Regions from separate parts of the Homo sapiens genome. Here all the other regions are linked to region 3. Evidence: fine-mapped expression QTL. A gene starts in region 3. Each other region holds a variant in brackets. All regions are shown on one strand. Distances are from middle to middle.

Evidence for each region. PIP is the estimated chance that this variant, and not a neighbour inherited with it, causes the effect.
Region 1: its variant is fine-mapped to the expression of IQSEC3 in testis (GTEx, PIP 0.95).
Region 2: its variant is fine-mapped to the expression of IQSEC3 in subcutaneous fat (TwinsUK, PIP 0.95).
Region 4: its variant is fine-mapped to the expression of IQSEC3 in whole blood (INTERVAL, PIP above 0.99).

The regions. Positions count from the first base shown.
Region 1 is chr12:160,993-166,194 of GRCh38, forward strand. It overlaps IQSEC3 (IQ motif and Sec7 domain ArfGEF 3), which reads left to right. Exons shown (of 14, transcript NM_001170738.2): 8 at 934-1,073; 9 at 2,502-2,627; 10 at 4,442-4,541; 11 at 4,737-4,898. It overlaps IQSEC3-AS1 (IQSEC3 antisense RNA 1), which reads right to left. Exons shown (of 3, transcript NR_183431.1): 2 at 4,320-5,202; 3 at 3,628-3,765. Among named protein-coding and RNA genes, the nearest start is that of IQSEC3-AS3, 14 kb to the left of the region's middle. The variant A/G (reference allele first, on the strand shown) is at 2,071.
Region 2 is chr12:132,610-137,811 of GRCh38, forward strand. All of the region lies in intron 3 of IQSEC3 (IQ motif and Sec7 domain ArfGEF 3), which reads left to right. IQSEC3-AS3 (IQSEC3 antisense RNA 3) reads right to left here. Exons shown (of 10, transcript NR_033859.2): 10 at 4,802-5,018. Among named protein-coding and RNA genes, the nearest start is that of IQSEC3-AS3, 14 kb to the right of the region's middle. The variant A/G (reference allele first, on the strand shown) is at 2,414.
Region 3 is chr12:63,682-68,883 of GRCh38, forward strand. It overlaps IQSEC3 (IQ motif and Sec7 domain ArfGEF 3), which reads left to right and starts at 3,086. Exons shown (of 14, transcript NM_001170738.2): 1 at 3,086-3,755. The coding sequence starts at 3,202.
Region 4 is chr12:139,314-144,448 of GRCh38, forward strand. IQSEC3 (IQ motif and Sec7 domain ArfGEF 3) reads left to right here. Exons shown (of 14, transcript NM_001170738.2): 4 at 1-41; 5 at 1,811-1,972. It overlaps IQSEC3-AS3 (IQSEC3 antisense RNA 3), which reads right to left. Exons shown (of 10, transcript NR_033859.2): 2 at 4,996-5,135; 3 at 3,926-4,096; 4 at 2,021-3,320; 5 at 1,599-1,931; 6 at 1,335-1,490; 7 at 927-1,057. Among named protein-coding and RNA genes, the nearest start is that of IQSEC3-AS3, 7.3 kb to the right of the region's middle. The variant T/C (reference allele first, on the strand shown) is at 2,508.

The sequences.
Region 1 (5,202 bases), 97 kb after region 3:
GGTTTTTCTCACCCGCCGCCTGATTTCTTTCAGCCTCCTTGGCTGCTGCATGGCTCATTTGCCTGACTTCGAGAACCAAGATCAGACGTGGAAGAGACCAGAGCAGGCCGGGAGCTGCGTGTGGAAGGCGGGGTGTCCTTTCAGTAGCTGGGAACACTCCTTTGAGAGATGCTTGCCAAAGTTGTTTTATTTTTAATTTTTCCCTCTTATAAAAGAAGCGTATAGTCATTAAAGAAAGATTTGGAAATAGTAGAAAGAAGATATTTTAATCGCCTGTTTCTCCAAAAGAAACGTGTTTTCTTGTTGGCATATTTCCTGCCAGTGTTTTTTTGTTGCCCGAGTTTTATCATTACTATGAAGCAGGAGGTGGGACAGGGGTGTCCTCGCCTGCATTGCCAGGGGTCTGCCTGCTCCCCCACTGCTCCCAGTGAGGGAGGAATCTCTTCAAAGACTAAGCCCTCAATGCCATGCTCCCTACTGGAGGGGAGAGGAGAGCCCAGCAGGAGGAAGATCCAAAAGAGAACGAAACAGAAGCTCCTTATGATGCTGGAGTGGTGGGGTGGAGCTGGGGGGTGAGACGAACACAAGGAAGACGACAGAACTGCAGAGGCGCACAGGGTTAGCAGGAACATGGAGGCTGTATCTGCCATCAGGAAAGAGGCCTGGGAGGTGGGCGTGAAGACTCTGGTTGGGGAACATCAGGAGGTGAGGCAGGAGATGTGTGTTGGGGCCATATCATTAGTTTTGGTGCCTGGCTAAGGAACTTGTTCTTAATTGAATGGGTATGAGGCACCAGCCATTGAAGGCATGGCAAGAACCAAGGCCACCCCCCGGGAGCTCCAGGCTGGATGGGGGTCTCTTCTGTCTGGCTCCAGGGCTCTGACACCCTCCCTCCCAACCCCACCACCACCCCTGCCCACTCCACGTTGTTAGGTGTGGACGATGGCGCTGACATCCCCAGGGAGCTGGTGGTAGGCATCTATGAGAGGATACAGCAGAAGGAGCTCAAGTCCAATGAGGACCACGTCACGTACGTCACCAAGGTGGAGAAGTCCATTGTGGGCATGAAGACAGTGAGTGTCCACAAGCTACCTATCTCCCGTCTCCTTTCCTTTCTTTCTTCCTGGCATCTCTTCCCATTCTCCTTCTTACCTTTCCAAAACTCTTTTTTCATATTCATTCACATGATAGTTATGAAGTACCTACTGTGTGCCAGACACTGCATCTCTTTTTTTTTTTCTTGCCTGATTTCCTCATTGCCTCTTGCCACCCGATACTGCAGCAGGAGAGACGGAGATGAGATGTCAGGAAGGACTGCCCAGTGGTCTAGGGTGGAAGCATCTGGGTGGCCAGATGAGATTTAGTATCCCTTTCCTAGGACAGCATGACTACCAGGCATTCCTGGATGGTCCTGATGAGTGGAAGGCAGGAAATGGGCTCAATAGGCTCCAGGCTGTGGCATCACCATAGATTTGTCCTATTGGTAGTGACCTGTGTCCCAGGCAGCATGTTCCAAGCCTGCCATGATTTTTAAAGTGGGACTTCTCTGTAGGCTACTACACTTTATACTATAAAGGATGTCATGGGGGTTCCAGTTCCTCCTCCTCATATTCTTGCCTCAGGGGACGGTGTGGGAGAGTTTGGAGATCTCTTCTGAGGCCCTGCACTGGGCTCCCTCCTCCCAGTCTGTGCAGGGACAGGCTTTTCTGCTTTGAGAGCCTTTATTGCTGAGGTCTCAGCATCTGTCGGGTTGCAAGCGACTGGTTTGTCTTACACGCTGGAGTAGATGCCAGGTGTCTCTGTGATCCCTTCGCTCTCGCACACCTGCATCTCTGCAGTATAGAAAGGGTGGAGGTGTCATATCTGCAGGCCGCAGCCTGGGGCAGGGGATGCCCTCAAGGTTACGGAGGGAAGCAGGTTGACAGTGGCTGGACTGGAACAGCCTGCAAGCTCTTCTCAATTTCCTATTCCTGTCCCTCTATCCCCTCATTTACTGTGGCTCAGTGGGCCCCTTCTCTGGCCGTGCTCCCCAAGAAGCATGACAGGGATGAGCCCTGGGACAGGGGGTGA[A/G]CGTGCGAGGGAAAGAGCCTCAGACGAGGAGAGAGAAGGATGAGAGTCAAGTCCAGGCCCCAGGACAGAACCGGAGCCCCTCCCCTCCCTCTCCACAAAACCGAACCCCTCCCCTCTCCTCCCTCCACAGAACCGGAGCCCTCCCCTCCCCCTCCACAGAACCGGACCCCTCCCCTCCCCTCCCTCCACAGAACCGGACCCCTCCCCTCCCCTCCCTCCACAGAACCGGACCCCTCCCCTCCCCTCCCTCCACAGAACCGGACCCCTCCCCTCTCCTCCCTCCACAGAACCGGACCCCTCCCCTCTCCTCCCTCCACAGAACCGGGCCCCTCCCCTCTCCCGGGCTGTCTCCTCTTCTGGAAAATGGGCGCGTGGGTGGGGAGGCCTCCAGGCCTCTGGTCTCTCCCGCTGAGCGCCCTGCCCGCGTGCAGGTGCTGTCCGTGCCCCACCGCCGCCTGGTGTGCTGCAGCCGGCTCTTCGAGGTGACGGATGTGAACAAGCTGCAGAAGCAGGCAGCGCATCAGAGGGAGGTGTTCCTCTTCAATGACCTGCTGGTGGTGAGTGGCCTCCGCTCCGGGACTGGGCTGGGCTGGGGCTGCCTCTGCCGCCCTGGTCAGCCTGGGCAGGGTCCCTGAAGTGGGCAGGAAAGGACGCCCAGAGCTTTCAGACAGAATGCCTGTTCCGTGGGACGGATCTGCCTTCATGGTGCTTTCACACCGTGGGCGTGAGGGGGCTCAGGCAGACATGCTAATTCCTACCTCATAAGTCATGACACCGAGACGTCAGATGATCTGCTCGTGGTTGCACAAACTGTTAACGAACTAGTTCCCAGACCACTGGCCTCTCCACGTTACAGGAAGCCCAGGACAGGGAGTGCACAGGGCTGTGCCTCAGACCCCAGGGCCTGGGAGGAGCAGGGCCTAGGCGGAGCATGCTCTGTCCCTGGGCCTAGGCGAGGCTGGTGTGTGTGTGTGCGTGCACACACATACACACATCTGTACCCACAGATACTTTTTTTGCTCTTTGAAAAGAAGTATCCATTCAACAAATATTTGATCAGCGTTGACCATGTGCCAGGCATCATTGTAGGTCTGGAAAACTGGTGAGCAGGACTGGAGCAGGGCTTGTGTCTCCCTCGCACCGGCCCTCTCTATCCATGAGCCACGTTGGCACTGCCTCCAAAGTGATCACAAGCCTGAACCACCTCTCACCACCTCCACTACTACAGTCTTAGTGCACGCCTGGTACATTCAGTGAACCACATCAGCCTCCACACGGCTCTCCCCACCCCCCTGAGAGCAGCAGCGTGATCTCTCTGGAGTGCACATCAGGCCACGTGTCCCCTTTCCCTAACCTGCCTCCCCGCCCTCTCCTCAGCCCTGGGAGGCGCCTCCCTCCTGTGGGCCAGGCCTTTGTACTTGCTGCTCCTTCTTGCAAAGCTCCTCCAGACCTTGCACTCTCCTCTTGCCTTCCTGGCCTCCTCCTTTTCATTCAAGTCTCAAATCACTTTTGATTCCTTACCCTGTTTCATTTTCTTCAAAACACGTAGCACTTTGGTTTTGTTTTTTTGCTGTTATGCTTTATTGTTTGATCACCTGATGGACACTGTGACACTCCACATTCCATAAGCACCTTAAGGGCAGGGGCTCTGTCCTGAGTTCTCCTGTATCTCCAGGGCTCAGCTCACAGAAGCTGCTGAATAGAAATTTGTTTATTAAGCAACCAGATGACTTTACTAAAACGAGCTTTCATTTTAGTAGGGGAGGGAGATAGAAAATAATTAAGAAACAGACAAACAAGATAATATCAGATTGGGGGAAGGCACTATGAAGGCCACAAACCAGGTGATAGTACAGAGAGTGACTGGAGTTAAGGGCCAGGTTTGGGCTTGCTTTGGTTTGTTTTTTAGAGGAGGTGATCCAGGAAGGCATCTCTAAGGAGGTAGCATTTGAGACTTAAGTAATGAGAGTAATGCAGCCGTGCAAAAAGCTGCCGGGAGAGCTGTGGAGTGGGAACAGTGTATGCGAGGGGCCCACAGTGGAACTGAGCTTGCCCTTCTCAAGCTACAGCAGGGAGGACACTTGGGCAGAAGGCCAGAGTAAGGCAAGGACCACATCAGGTGGGTTTTACAGGCCAGCTCAGGCGCCGTGGCTTGGCTTCTAAGTACAGAGGGAATAACCACTGTAGGGTTTTGTGCAGTGAAGAAGCACATTTTGGGATAGTGTGTGCACATATATGTATATCTGTACCTGTATGTGCACATTCATCACTGCGTGGGTTTGTGTGATCGTGCATCCCCCGGGTGTTTGTGCATCCATGTGTCCGTGAGTGTCTGTTCATCAGGGCATGCCTGTTTCCCTCTCCTGAACAGATTCTCAAACTTTGCCCGAAGAAGAAGAGCTCCTCCACGTACACCTTTTGCAAGTCAGTTGGCCTGCTGGGCATGCAGTTCCAGCTCTTTGAGAACGAGTGTAAGTCTTTGACAGCCAGTGTAAGTCTTTGAGAAGGAATGAATGGATGAAATGGCTGGGGCGAGTTGAGGGAGAAGGGCTGGACAGCAGAGTGGGTGGAGGCATGAGACCCCGTGCCCTCCTCATGTCTGGCTGGCTCTGGCCCTCGGCTGCTGCTGCTCACAGCCCACTGGGGGCCTGGGGTCTGCTTTCCAGATTACTCTCATGGCATCACACTGGTGACCCCGCTCTCGGGCTCCGAGAAGAAGCAGGTGCTGCATTTCTGTGCCCTGGGCTCGGACGAGATGCAGAAGTTCGTGGAGGACCTGAAGGAGTCCATTGCTGAGGTGACGGAGCTGGAGCAGATCCGAATAGAGTGTAAGGACACGGGCTCCCGAGGCAGCTGGTGGGGGTTCCCATTCAGCAAGGGACAGGGGCAGCTTGAGACAGACATGCCTGACTCCAGGGAGCTGGCCCCACTTCGGACCCTCCCCGTGTCCAGGCCCCACCGCACCACACTCCCACAGCCCGGGTGGGAGCACCGGTTCCCATGTTTCTTCACAATTAAAGTGAGGCTTGCTAGAGTGCACACACGTGTGTACACAGATCAGCAGGCATGTGGGGCTGCGCGTGGGCCTCTTGGAACAGAGAGCTCTGCTGTTTTACCAGGATGACCAAGCGA
Region 2 (5,202 bases), 69 kb after region 3:
TCCCAGGAGCTACAGGAGGCTGACAAACACAGTGGACAGGGCAAACGAAAACCCCAGGACAAGGCAAGTTTCCCAGGCTGGGTGCTTGTCAGGCCAATAAGGAAGTCAACAAGAGCTGGTTTGGGTGAGGTAGGGAAAACAGTGGCATAGCCTAGATGGACAGAGGATACACAGGCTGCTGGAAATGTGGGTCTAGGATCAAGGCTAGGTATGGAGGCTTGAGAGTCATTCCCATCATTGTCACTGTCACCATTAAGCAGCTACCACTTATGAAGCTCCTGCTCTCTGCTGGGTGCTCCATGAAATAATTTAATCCTCACAAGAAGATACAGGGTCAGCAGGATAAACCCCACTTAATAGATATGAAAACTGAGAGTCAAAGATGTTAAATTCATCCAAGTCCAATCAGCTGGGATCTGGGGCTGGCCATTCCCCTTACTTGCCACTTGCTCACTGGCCCATCAAAGTAGAAGTTAAGAGAGTGGACTGGGTCCTCAGAGGGAAGGCAGACAGGGCTGAGAAGGTATCCACCTGGGGAGCACGTTTACAGTGACCTGGAAGGCTCTGACTGACACAGCTCCCTTCTTAATTCATTGTTAATTATCACCCATCACGGGCTCCTCTGATGATGTCCAACACAGAAGCCGTGGATGATGTCCAGAGTGTACGGGGAAAATTAAAACGTGTGGAGACTGGCAGTGGCACCCATGTGACTCGTAATCAGCACACGTAGGGGTTTTGTGGCCAGAATACAGGATTAAGGGGTTGTAGGGAGACAGGACAACCAGGATAGACTGAGTCATGAGCACTGGGGAGAGTTGCAGAAAGGAGCCAGGAGGGAGGCTGAGGAGGCCCCTGGGGCTGAGTGACAAGCCCCAGATCTGCCTCTTCCTTGCTGGTTGGCCTTGGATGAGTTTAACATCTCTCGCCCTTGACTGAGATGGGAGGCAGCAGGACCCAGAGCACAGGGCTCAGGGCAGGGTTGGGTCAGCATCTGGCCTTTGCTCCTGGAGTGAGGCACAGGTTAGTGTTCTGGAGGTTCAGTGTAAAATAGGAAGAAAGGGAACAGGCTAGGGCAGGGTTGGGTCAGTATCTGGCATTTGCTCCTGGAGTGAGGCAGAGGTTAGTGTTCTGGAGGTTCAGTGTAAAATAGGAAGAAAGGGAACAGGCTAGGGCAGGGTTGGGTCAGCATCTGGCATTTGCTCCTGGAGTGAGGCAGAGGTTAGTGTTCTGGAGGTTCAGTGTGAAATAGGAAGAAAGGGAACAGGCTAGGGCAGGGTTGGGTCAGTATCTGGCATTTGCTCCTGGAGTGAGGCAGAGGTTATTGTTCTGGAGGTTCAGTGTAAAATAGGAAGAAAGGGAACAGGCTAGTGCCCCAGCGGCAGCGGAGTCAGCAGTTACGCTGTAGCCTGGGGAGATCTGTGGCCAGGTGCAAAGCTGCAGATAGGACGAAGGAAATGGGAGTAAAAAGAGCATGTGTAGGGTGAGCTGAACACACAAAGGAGGCAGGAGCGGGAGAGCGTCTGCTGAGTCAGATTAGGAAGGTTTTTGAGAGTCACAAATATAACTTTGGAATTAATTTGTCGAATACACACTCATTGAAGGCCCACTATGTGCTGGGCACTGTCCAAGCATTGGAGGAGATAGCAGTGGCCACGGCAGGTGAAATCTGCCCTCGTGGGACTTGATGTCTAGTAGAGGATGTGATGGGACAGATGCAAGAATTTAAAATCTGGTTTTCTTTCCTGCTTGGGTGAAGCATAGACATTGCCCAGTAGTACACGGAGTCTCCTAGGGTTATGTCAGCTGGTCTTCTGCCTTCAAGCAGGATGATACCATGCCAAGGGCATGGACCCCATCACCATTTTGGAAGCATCTCAAGCAATGGATTTCATACCTTCCCTGTGTTGCCAACAGCATCTCGTGCTGCAAAAGGATGCTCTTGGGCCTGGGGTTTTCCTAGAAGTATAAATAGGCCAGACGGGAAAGAAATGTGAAATCTGGCCGGGCGCAGTGGCCCACGCCTGTAATCCCAGCACTTTGGGAGGCCAAGGTGGGCGGATCACCGAGGTGCCAGGAGTTCAGGTCCAGCCTGGCCAACATAGCAAAACTCTGTCTCTACTAAAAAAAATACAAAAGTTAGCCAGGCACAGTGGCACATGCCTGTAATCCCAGCACTTTGGGAGGCCAAGGTGGGGTATAAATAGGCCAGACGGGAAAGAAATGTGAAATCTGGCCGGGCACGGTGGCTCACGCCTGTAATCCCAGCACTCTGGGAGGCCAAGGTGGGCGGATCACCAAGGCACCAGGAGTTCAAGTCCAGCCTGGCAAACATGGCAAAACCCTGTCTCTACTTAAAAAAATACAAAAATTAGCCAGGCACAGTGGCGCACACCTGTAATCCCAGCTACTC[A/G]GGAGGCTGAGGCAGGAGAATCGCTTGAACCCAGGAGGCGGAGGTTATGGTGAGCCGAGATCGTGCCACTGCACTCCAGCCTGGGTGACAGAGCGGGACTCCATCTCAAAGAAAAAAAAAAGAAATGTGAAATCTGTCAGTTTCTCATGGTGCTTGAATAGGGCTGACAGACAGAAATTGAGAGAAAAGGAGACATTTTAGTGATCAGTTCCCCTTCCTCTCTACATTTCCCCTTGGGGAAGGACTTTCCTGCCTGAGCCAAAGCCAAGTCCCTATTCCAGGCCTCAGGGAATGTGTCAAAGTTCAGCAGGGAGAATGAGCCAAGCTACATTATTTCCACAGGAGCAGGAACAGAATGCCTCAGAGGCAAGTATCTGTGTCTCTTATGGGTGCATGAGGTCATACCTAGTAAAGATCAAGTGGGGAAGTGTCCAGTTCGTACCGTGGGCAAAATTCTCAGATGGCCCCCAAGTCCCCTTCATGCTAGTGTACACATCCTATATAATCCCCTTCCCTTGAGTATGGGCAGGATGAGTGAATGTGATGGGACATCACTCCAATGATTAGGTTACCAATTGGTTGATTTTGAGTTAATAAAAAGAAACATCACCCAGGGTGGGTCTGAGCTAATCAGGTCAGCCCTATAAATGAAGCTGAAGCCCCAGACAGACACTGTGCCGTTAGCCTTGAAGGACCAAGCTATCAGGTTATGAAGCAGGCCACATGGTAGGGGACAGCAGGCAACCTCTAGTGACTGAGGGCCTAAGTCCTGTGATTACAAGGAATTGAATTGTGCCAACAAGAGCGAGCTCAAAGGAGGACCCCACACCTTAGATGATATTGCAGCCCTGACTGATATCTTGGTTTCAGCCTGGTGAGATCCCGAGCAGATAACCCAGATGAGCTGTGCCCAGACTAGATTCACAGAGCTGCATGAGAAATAAACAGGTGCTACTTTAAGTGGCTGGATTTGTGGTCATGTGTTACACAGCAATAGATGAGGAATACACTTGGTGTGGTTTAGAGCACCTTGAAGACCCCTCCAATAGGGGGATTGTGATAGCACTGGGAGCTTCCTCCTGCTCAGGGCCTTGTCCCTCATGAAATGCAAGTAACTTTGGGAGAAGCCATATAGGAAGGCTTAGTTGCCATTTACACATTAATCTGCGTGAGTTCCAACGATCTCCAAGGGTAGAGTTGGATGTTGGGGGAGACAGAATGATGTCCCCAGGTTTGGGAATGGGGAATGGGAATGGCCAGGCTGGAAGCACTGGAGGCAAGCACTAAGGATGTCTCATTTTATCTGGGATTGTCCTTGGGGATTGGGGTTGAATCCACAAGGTGTCCTGAGCTAAGAGGCTACCTCTGCTAGCGTGGAATGGGGCACCCATCACACCCTGCAGGGAGGGAGCAGAGGGCACGGCTGGGCTGTGGGAGGCAGGCATTCATTCTGGCTGCAGCCTTTGGGGGCTCCAGTGGAGCAGGAAGCAGGTTGAAGTGTTGTGCTGAGGGATGAAGTATGGCCTTTCTATCTGTACCCTCGCCATCCATGATCCCTGGAGAACAATCTGTACCCTCCCCACCCATGATCCCTGGAGAACACGGGACGTCCCTGTTCTTGCCTTGAGTCGTTCATCTCAGCGCACCCATCCCGATTCTTCGTTCATTCGGGAAGGACACCACGTGTAAGTGGCATGTCTGGTTGTGAATAGGAAACACTCGCACTTCCCAAACTTCTCTGAGGGCTGATCAGAGTCTAGGATGCCACCATTTAAGCCCATCACCTTCACACAGGCCTTGTCCCTTATTTAAAGGCAGAAGCCTCTGGGGGCATGGCTGTCATACCTCCCCAGTCCTTTCCTGAGAAGTTTCCATAGGGAGGAAAAGTGAGAGCGTAGCAACCTGAGAGGAGAAAACCCACGGACAGGAGGACAGAGCCGAGAGGAGGCACGCTGGCCCCCTGACAGAAGTTTTCCTGGGATCAGATCTGCCCAGGTGAGGTGCCATGCCCCCGAGCCCACCCCACCCAGCCCTGCCCTGGTTGGACAGCTCCCACCGTAAGAGCAGAGGTGACTCAAATTGGGGAACTCTTGGTAATGGTGGCCTGGAGGGACCCCCATTCTTGAGACACCCACTCAACTTTTTAGCAAATCCACGTTTACTGAGCAGCTAACTATGTACTGGGAACACACAGATGGTCCAACCCCAATCCCGACCCTTCTGATGTTCCCAGGGAAAGGAGCCACCCCAACACAGAGACATGGTTGCTGGGGAGGAGCAGGGAAGCACGAGGAGCTGTGAGGGTTTTTAGCATTTATGTTTTTCATTGTTTAGGGGAGGAGCGGGGAAGCACGAGGAGCTGTGAGGTTTTTTAGCATTTCTGTTTTTCATTGTTTATTGTTTTAAAGTGTGCACAAAAGTAGAAACGACAGTGTTATAAACTCCCCCGTAGCTATCATCCAGCTGTAACCATTTTATTAATATTTATTAACATTAATATTGTGTCATCTAACTCTTCCACATTTTTTGACAGAATATTTTAACACAACTTCAAGATATCATGCATTTTACCCATAAGTACTTCTGTATGCATCTCTGACATGAACTTAAAAAAAAAAAAAAAAAGAAGAAAAGAAAAGAAAAAAACAGAGACAAGGTCTCACTGTTTTGCCCAGGCTGGAGTGCTGTGGTACAATCATAGCTCACTGTAATCTCCAACTCCTTGGGCTCAAGCAGTCCTCCCACCTCAGCCTTCCCAGTAGCTGAGGACCACAGGCGTGCGCGCACCA
Region 3 (5,202 bases):
TATGTGAAATTCCACAACAGACAAAACTAACATATACTGGCAGACAGCAAGTCAGTGGTTAACTGGAGCTGAGGATGAGAGGAACTGACTAAAATAGGGCATGAACATTTGTCAAAATTCATTGAACTGTGCACATAAAATGGGAGCATATCATTGGATATAAATTATAAGTCAACAAAGTTGATTTTTTTAATGAAAAAAGTTTTTAAAATAAAAATTCTTGGTCCCCATTCCTAGTGATTCCAATACAGCAGGACTGGTATTATGGGAGGAGACCACCCCTCATATTGCCTTATGCCCATTTTCTGCCTCCAAAGAAAGAAAAACTAAAAACTAAAAGGCAGAAATGAAATCCACAAGCAGACAGCCCGGCGCCACACCCTGGGCCTGGTAGTTAAAGATCGACCCCTGACCTAATCGGTTATGTTATCTATAGATTACAGACATTGTATAGAAAAGCACTGTGAAAAATCCCTATCCTGTTGTGTTCCGATCTAATTACCGGTGCATGCAGCCCCCAGTCACGTACCCCCTGCTTGCTTAATCGACCACGACCCTCTCACGCGCACCCCCTTAGAGTTGTGAACCCTTAAAAAGGACAGAAATTGCTCACTCGGGGAGCTCAGCTCTTGAGACAGGAGTCTTGCCGATGCCCCCAGCCAAATAAACCCCTTCCTTCTTTAACTCGGTGTCTGAGGAATTTTGTCTGCGGCTTGTCCTGCTACAATATAGGGCTCAGAAATCTGCATTTTCAACAATCCGCATGGATAATTATGCTGCAGGCTGTTTCACTTATCGTATTCGTCTCTAATTTGCTGTCCAAGCACCCAATTCTTGGACAGCAAATCAACTAGGCAAACAAAGAAAATTCAGAAAAAAGAGTTTGAGTTTTTGTGTGCCCTTGTTTCATCCCCCAACCTCCATTCTTTAGCTGGAATGCTGGTCACTACCAAAGCATCCTCCTGTGTGCTGTTTCCCCTAACCGTGAGCTCAGCTGTGGATAAGCTTCCTTTATTCATTCTTTACCAAAGAAAGTTTGCTAGGAAGATAAATGGGAGAAAAGCAAAATAAAAACACATCAGGAATGCAGATAAACCAATATATGTGCAGAGCACAAGTTCCTTCTCATAAGGTCATTCAAGTCTGGCACCACGTGGTGGTGGGGGGTGGGCCAGCTCACTGGGCACATGGTACCCATAAATATGCCTACCCTGGGGGAATGGAAGGTTGACAGGGAGCCTGATGGACATGTGTGTGAAGAACGGAACAACACAATAACAAACATGCGAAGCGTACTCATAGCCCTTCCTCCTTCCCATCCCATTCCTATAAAAGAGGAAAGAACAACTCATTTCCTTCACGGGGCATGGTGGTATGCATCTGTAGTCCCACCTACTCAGGAAGCTGAGGCTAGAGGATTCCTTGATCCCAGGAGGTCAAGGATGGAGTAAGCTATGATCCTGCCACTGCACTCCAGCCTCGGTGACAGACAAGACTTTAAAAAAAAAAAAAAGTAAAGGAAAAGAAAAGGAAAGGGATATTTCCCTGCCAAATTAATTTAAACCAAGTGCTCTATTTCCATTCATTAGTTTTTTCCCTGCTGCCTGATGTATCTTTCTCATATCTGGCCCCCTGTTCTGTCTACCTGTTGAAATATTTCCCATTCTTCGTGGCCCAACTTGAGTAACACCTCTGTCAGAACTTATCAGATCAACACAGTCAAATGAATCCTCTCCCTCCCCTGAACTCTATGGCACTTGGCTTGAAGAGCTCTTACAGAAATCTTGAGTTGTGTTTTACTTATTCATGTGCATGGCATATCTACTCTATGAGATTGGAATCAACTTGATTATAGAAATGATAACTTATTATCTATGCTAGATGTGGCTTGCATAGATTCTGTACATTACTTTGCACCTAGTGAGTGGTGATTATTGTAGACATGAATGAATGATTCAATCGGTGCTGATTAATGTCTCTGAGCTTTTGCTCATGCTGTCTTCCCTTTATGGAAAACCCTTCCCACACCAAGGGTCACTTCCTGTAAGAAGCCTCCCTGGATCTCCAAGCTGCTGGCTCCTATAGCACTCTGGGCAAACCTCTGCCTGATTACTCACCACCACTATCATACGTCAAAGTTAATCATGACCAATTTCACCCACTTATTTATAAGCTTCAAAAAGCCTAACATTCCATTCTAGTCATGCTTCTCTTACCACCATCTAGCACAGTGTTTGGTAATAGTGTGCATTTTATAACTGTTTGTCAAATAGAATGATCTATTCAGAAGCTTCTGGAAGCGTTAGCCCTTGCCACAGAGGACCTCGTTTATTTAGTGTTTCTATCAGGAACTGCCACAGTTGTCTTGAGGTCTCACTCCCAGAGGAAACCCAGCATGAACAGCCTTCCCATCCCAAGTTTCGTCACGGATGAAGGAAGGAGCAGGACCAGACGCTCTTTAGGGTCCCTTAGAGCCCCAGGATTCTTGTGTTCCAGGGAATCCCCTGGCAGAATAGATTGCTGCGAGCAAAAGAGGCGAGTGTGGCCCCTCCTCAGCAGGTCTCTAGATGAACCCCAGCCTCTGGAAGGCCTGGACCTGGGAAAAAAGAATTCGCGTCCCTTCAGGGCCCCACGCCTTCCTGTCCTCCAGCACATTTCTCTTTCTTGGCCCCACCTTCCCTTTTTCTGCTTCCTCTCTGCTGGCCTCTCCCCTTCTCTTCCTTTCTTTTCTGTTTCTCTTCTCCTACAGGTCCCACCGCACCTTCCCAGTATCGCTGCTTCCCCTTCGCCTACTTCCCAGTCTGGCCAGTCAGATTCACCGTCCTTCTCGGGTCGCCTGCGTTATCTTGCTTTCCTCCCACGCCCCGACAGAGGCTCCCTCTCGCTGGCCTCCTCCCTCTCCTCTCTGCCCTGCAGGCAGCAGAGCCTTCGCTGACGCCAAGAGGCAGCGAGGTGGGGAGGCGAGGAGTTGGGGAGGTCTGGAGGTAGGGGGTGGGGTGGGGGTGGGGCCTTGCGCAGCCGCCCCGCCCCGCGATGCGTGTGTGAAGGTCGGGGTGGCAGTGACGCGGCGCCGGCGGGGGGAGGGAGGCTGGGCCGGTGGGAGAGGGAGGCGAGCCGACCGCTGGGCTGCTGGGCTCCCGCGCCCTCGCGCTCCCCGCCGCCAGCCCAGGCGCAGGCAGGGCGCAGGCGGCGGCGGGCGGCATGGAGAGCCTGCTGGAGAATCCGGTGCGCGCCGTGCTCTACCTCAAGGAGCTCACGGCCATCGTGCAGAACCAGCAGAGCCTCATCCACACCCAGCGAGAGCGTATCGACGAGCTGGAGCGGCGGCTGGACGAGCTGAGCGCTGAGAACCGCAGCCTGTGGGAGCACCAGCAGCTGCTGCAAGCCCAGCCTCCGCCCGGGCTCGTCCCCCCGTCATCGGCCCCGCTGCCGGCCGCTCCGGCCACCGCTCCTGCCGCCGCCGCCAGGGCCCAGGAACCTCTCCAGGACCAGGGACAGCGCTCAGCAGCCGCGCCGCATCCCGCGCCCGATCGGCCGCCGCGTCAGCACCACGGACAGCTCCTGGAGCAGCCCCAGCGGGGCCCTGGCAGCAGGGCTCACACACCCCAGTCGCCCCACAAGCATCTGGGGACACAAGGGGCCGTGACTGACAAGGAGAAGGAGCGTCCCCCGAGTTGCTGCGCTGCTGCCGGAGCCCTCCTTCAGCACAAATCCCCCTCCGCCCTCGGCAAGGGCGTCCTGAGCAGGAGACCTGAGTGAGCGGGGAGAGGAGATGGGCACTGTTGTGGTGGGAGCAAGGGAAGCAAGTGGGTGTGAGGGAGAGACGGGGACGTTGGGTGCGTAGGAGTCTAAAGGACCGGAGTGATGTGGCCTGAAGGCGCCAGAAGTGTGCAAAGGAGATTTTGGGTAAATGAGGGAACGATATCCCTGCTTGAGAAGGTTTTGGGGAATGCTGGAGCAAAAAGGAGTAACCAGACCATTAGTAGGAGCAAAGGAGGAAGGAGGTGGGTGTTAAGCGATTGGTGATACTGGGAACTGACAGCATTTAAACGGGGTTAGGCTGGGTTGAAGTTCGAGTGAAGATTAAACTGTAGAAAAGAGAACCATTGAAGGAATCTTTTTAAGTGAGAAAAAATTTGGAAGGAAGTTTGGGTAGTAAAAGTATTTGCATGGAGACTGAGATGTGAGAAAAGCTGAAGGCTTGGAAAGAGGCATGTGAAGAGCTTTAAAAAGGCTGGGGCCCAGGAAGAGTAGGACTGGGGTAGAGGGGAATCCAGGAGGCCGGGGACAAACCTGAAAAGCAGGAGTGATGTGGGAAACCAAGGGAGCTGGAGGCAGAGGAAGAGAAAATGTGGCTCTTTAGCTGGTGAAGTGGGAGCCACAGCTAGGAGTGGCTCATTTAGGGAAGCTTTCTCTTCTCTGACCTGATTGGACACCCTTCCTCTGAATTCCCGCAGAGCCGAAGAGGTGCAAGGGAACATCCCATCAAACCAATGGAGGACTCAGGCATGGCTTGAGGACTCAGTCTGGTTACAGCTTTTTCCTCCAACTCAAGGAGGGTTTTTCATACAGGGTGTTTGGCCGTTGTTGAAAGGGAGCAATGACATGGGGGACAGTTGGCAGATGGAGTTGGTATTCAGATGCCATGCCTGTTTAAATCTCCCTGTTAAGGCCAGCAACTGCAAACCCTTTTTTCCCGGTTATCTGGTGATCACTGAAATCTTGCCTTGGGTCCTGAGAGAAATGTTAACCTCTCAGTTCCTAGAACTTCAAGCTCTTTCTTCACTCAGGAGGTCCATGAACTAGGAATATGGGAAGAAGATATGAAAGTGTCTGGGATGTTCTCTCCTCTGTACTGGAAAGGCTGTGGCCATGTCTGCTTCTTTTCTCTGATTAGGCAAGTGATGGAGAACTAAACAAAGAACAGTTCAAGGGAAATTGTCCCTGGTCAGCACCTGACCTTGACAATGGTGATGCATAAGGGAATGGGGAGGGGGAAGTAGAGCTGAGAATCTCATCTTCATCCAGGTGCATTAAGTCTGGGAGATACTTGTGAATATTTGCTGTATTCCTTCAAAACTCATTTTCTTTTACCATCTGTGGTAGAGTTAGAGAAGTTGGGTTAGGGCAGGGTAGCTCACAGAGCACGTTGATCAAAACCACAGGATCTAAGAGGTGAAGGTCTAACATGATCTGGCTTGG
Region 4 (5,135 bases), 76 kb after region 3:
CGCAAGCGGCTCTACCGCATCGGCCTCAACCTCTTCAACATGTAAGTCAGCCCCGGCCCCCAGCCCGGAGTCCTGGGCGTCCTGGGAGGGAGGGAAGGAGGAGGGCACCTTCCCTCCACCAAGCAGGGCGCCAGGTAACTTCCCACGTCATGCCAGGGTCCTCCAGGCAGGCGCATCTGTGCCGTGCCTGATCCCTGAGGTCATGTTTAGGAAGTACATATTTTATTTTAATCATCCTGAGTTTATTTTAAGAAAGATTAAAGGAAAAAAATAACACATCAGACACATGCTTTCACAACTGTTACAGCTTAAGATGAAGCTAGGGTTTGAAAAGTAAGAGAATGTAAAAGAAAAGACAGTATTAAGTAAATAACAGTCCAGGCCGTTTGAGGATTACGCAGCAATCATTCGGGTGGATATGAAGCCAGGGAAAACGCATTAGCTCCCAGGGTTGGTGAAATGCGAGGCTGGGTGGGGGAGGGAGGAGAGGCGCCTCGTAAAGAATGCCGGCTGAGAGCAGGAGAGGGGAGGGCTACGAGGAAGAGAGAGTGTGAAGCAGGCAGAGGCACAGGAGAAAGAGAACAGGGGAGAAATGACCGACCGCCATAGCTCAGAGACCCCAGCGAGACCGGGACTGGTCCTGCACCGAATGTATACAGCCAGTCCCAAGCAGAGGAAAGGAAGCACACCTGCCCCTCCCATGGAAATGTCAGGTCCAGGAGGCAGGCACTCGCCTCCATCCTCCACTCGCCCCTTCATAACCCTGCGCCAAGAGCACATCTCCCCGGCCCTAATGCGTGTTCATTCGTTCATTCGGCTGTTATTTATTGGGTGCCAGGCACTGTGACCACAGAGGTGAGAAGGACACATCCCCTGGCCTCAAGAGGCTCCTATTCTAGGGGAAGTAGCTACTGTTCATAGCTCACCTTACATAAAGCATCTGTAATCTTCCAGCAGTATCTACACAGAGGTATTACCATGCTGTTTTACAGAAAAGAAGCCGGCTCACACCAGTAAGGCGAAATGCACACGATGAAATAGCTAGTACTCGGCAGACCTAGGGAAAGGCGGATCTGACTCTGAACCACTCCCACTTCTGCAGTGTCTCTTCTGCATGCACATGAAAACTCATACAGACACTCATCTGCCCCAAGACAGGAATTCTTAAACTATCCATAGTGAAGAACCAGTTTTGTTCCCCCACACCCTTCTGAAAATACATTGTGGGCTAATACTTTTGTAAAATACAATAAAAATGAGGTGCTAGAAAGACAATCACATGCCTGGCTGTCCCGGAAAATGTCGAAATGCTATGGGAGGTTCTCAGTGCTTACCTTGTGTTTCTGTACTTATCTCCTCCCGGACCTGTGAGGAACAGCTCAGGGAGCAGCATGGCTTCAAAGCTTGCAAAGGGAAGAGGTGGTGTGGCGGAGGTCTCACCTCTGTTTCTCCCACCCTCTCTCCAGGGTTGGGGCGTCTGCGGTGGGGACCTGCATATTGACAACAGGATATGGGTAGGGGGAAGGGCAGGACTGGGGTAAGACCCAGGAGGCAGGGACAGAGAAGGGTACTTCTCCTCCATCTGCTCTGGAATTCACTTTGTTTGCAGATCTCCCCTGTCCTCCTTCTGGTCACACACCATCCTCTGCGTGAGGACATTCAGTGGGTTGAGGCTCTGGTGAGAGAAGCTTCAATGGGGAACTGGATTTCCAAGAACCTCTGGGTACTTCTATGGGTGGAAGACAGGGAGGAAAGAGTCATGGATGGCTTCAGCTCACTCTCTACTGCTTCTCCCCACCCCCACCTCCAGAAACCCCGACAAGGGCATCCAGTTCCTGATCTCACGCGGCTTCATCCCGGACACCCCCATCGGTGTGGCCCATTTCCTCCTCCAGCGAAAGGGCCTCAGCCGCCAGATGATTGGAGAGTTCCTGGGCAACAGCAAGAAGCAGTTCAACCGCGACGTGCTGGAGTGAGTACCCCACACTCCGGGCTTTCCCCACTCCTTCCCACACCCCACCTGCCCGGGCTCTCTCTGTGAGCTCCTTGGTGAAATCCTCGCTCCAGTTCTAACAGCTTCCAGCTTCCAGATTGTCCACAGGAACCAGAATCCCCTCTTTAGCCCATCACCCCAGTGGGCCGGAGCCCTGTCTCCCGTCAGAGTCATTGATTGAGTTCGCCCCAGGCCAGGCTTCGTTTGAGGCAGCAGGGATACAGAAATGGTCCAAAGAGACAAAAAGCCCTTTCTGCCTGTCACTCTCCAGGGCAAGAGAAACCAGGAAAAGGAAAGGGCTTGTGTCAGCACTGGGGTTCATCTCTGCCTGGTGAAGAGCCCCTCAGCCCCCCTCCCCCAGGACCCTCCCATTCTCCAAGGTTCATTTTCATATCGCTGGAGGCAAAAATGTGAGACAGAAAAAAGAAGGGGTTAAACTGAGGGTTTTAGAGCAAGAAAATACTACAATTCCATAAAGATAAATCTACCAACAAAATCATGACCAAAGAAAAAT[T/C]GTTTCTTTAAAACCAAAGAAAATGGTTTTAAAGTCCAGTAGCAGGGTGGGGACCCCCAGGGGGCTGCCTTTGCCCCCGCTCAGCCTTGATAGTGTGGACAGGCAAGAGTCTCTTCACACTCATGCCTTGTCCAGAATGGCAGGGCGGGGCTGGCGCTCCTCTGAGGCTGAGGGGCCTTGCAGCTACTCCTTCCCTGGGACATCGGCTTCAGCCCCTGCCATGCCCCCGTGCTCTTTCTGGCTTCCACTGGTCCCCGAGGTTGGCCTCCTTCTTGAAGGTCTCCATTCTTCAGGGACCCTCCCTCATTTCTCTCCCCTCTTTCTCCTTGGGGACAGTCAGCAGAAGTGTCTCCCCGGAGGCCCTGGGAAGAGCTCTCCCTTTCATCCTCGCTCCTGGAGCAGCAAGGGACTGCCAGAGAGGGTTTGGACGCTGGGGGAGTCATCCACCCAGTGGTCAGCTTCCCTGGAGTGGGAGCTTGGATATTTCACTTCTATTTATGGAGCTGTCTTGGTGCTGTGTGCCCATATTGAGAAGCCCCTGTCCTCTGGGCCTGCGTTTCCATGCCTGCAGAGTGGTGCTGGGTTGTGAGGGCTGGACCCATTGCCCTCTGAAATCCCTGTCACATTTCTAAATCCACTGACGCGGTGGTTTTCTGACTGAGTTCAATGAGTGAGGGCTGGGGTTCGCACAGGTACCTTGAAATCCCTGCACAGCCCTCAGCTGGGCAGAACTGAGTTCCTGTCCCTGACTCTTGGTGGCTTTTGACAATTTATCATCCCTCCTGGAGCTGCTGGTGGAGACGCTCTGTGGACCTCAAAGAGGAAAGAGAGACAATGCTAGGCAGCGCCTCCCTCTCACCTCCTTTCTCTTCTCCCTCCGGCTTCCCTTCCCTTCCCCAGCACTGCTGTGGGGGCCCATGGAGGTGCTACTGGGATCCAGGATACATCTAGGTTGCAGAAGGGGAGAGATGGCATTTCCTCACGCCCTTCCTTTTCTGTGTCCCCTAGTTGGCTCATCTCTCTGGCTTTCCTGCACTGTTGTCCCAGTCCATCCCTTCCCAAGCCAGGGTGAGGTGCTGGCCCCGTAGCCCCAGGCACCCCTGCTGTCTCTCTGCTCTGGGGGCAGGAGTGACTCTGCTTCACCCACAGGCCCTGACTGTTGTCTGTTTTCTTCTGTCTTTCCCAGTCTCCATGTGGCCTGCGCCCTAAATTCTAACCTGCAAGGCCCACATTGATCTGGAGTGCTGGGAACACAGCGTTTTCCTGCAGCCCAGGTGGTGCTGAGTCGCACAATGGAAACTAATTGCCCTCTTCCCTGGGAGGCTGCGTGTATGGGCTGTGGGCTGGAGGCTTGGAGCAGTGGCTGCAAGCCTGTGCTGAGGAGGGGAGCTGGGCTGGGGGCTGGGGGCTGGGCTAACCTTAGGTAGGGATCAGGCTTGGGATGGGTAGGGGCCAGACTCCCGCGTTGGTACACTCTTCCAGTGAGAAGAGGCAGCGTGGTGAGATAGGAGAAATAGCTGGACCCGGGCTCTGCTCCTCTGTGCTGTGTGGCTTTGGCAGGACACCTCTCTGGGCCTCGGTGTCCTCATCTGTAAAATGAGAGGGCTGGGCGATGTGATTGCAAAAGTTTCTCCAAGTCCTGAGAATCTACCACCTTTCCCATCTCTTAGTGCATTGGTAGCACTGCCCTAAACACTGGGGCATGATTTGTCATCCTGCCAGAGCAGCCCACAGGCCCCAGGGCCGTGCTGGGGTGCCAGAGTTCATGCAGGGCAGTGCTGGGGTGCCAGAGTTCATGCAGGGCAGTGCTGGGGTGCCAGCGTTCATGCAGGGCAGTGCTGGGGTGCCAGCGTTCATGCAGGGCAGTGCTGGGGTGCCAGGGTTCATGCAGGGCAGTGCTGGGGTGCCAGGGTTCATGGGGGAATGAGTTGGCCATTTGTTATTCATTCAACAAACATCGAGCACTTATTTATTGTGTGTTGAGAATGGGGCCACGCTGGGCACCCGTGTGTGTGTGTGTGTGTGTGTGTGTGTGTGTGTGTGTGTGAAGAGGCATGGCTCACAGTCTCAGGGAACGTACAGACCCAGGTGTGGATGGGGAGAGGTGAGAAGCAGGAGCATGGAAAGAGAGTGAGAAGAGCAAGGGGCCTCCAGCCGGAACCCTGGCTTGGGCAAGGTTGAGTGCAGAGCTAAGCCCTGATATGCCCTGGTGAAAGCCGCAATCCCTCATGCTTGATTGTGTAGCCCTGCAGGCCTGGCATGCTGACTCAGCGCCACAGAAAGGAGCCCCTCCCTGAAGTCCATAGGTCACTGACTGCCTTGCTTCTCTCCGAGGTGGAGAGGGCCCTGTCCTGCAAAGGGCAGGAGAAGATGGAGAAGCAGAAAGTGGCAGGCACTAGCAGGGGAGGGGGGCGCTGGAGTCTTTGCATTTCCCTTCCACTCTGACTGTGTCTTCCTTACTCCCGCCGGAGAAAACACACACACTAACCGAGTCGCCAGGTGCCATTTTGCCCAGGCCTGGAAGGCTTCACTGGGATTCTATACGGCTCCCCTGCCCCCGCCTGGTGACATTCAGCAAGCGGTATTCATTCTGTACAAAGCTGTTTGCCGAATAAAAGGATATAAATC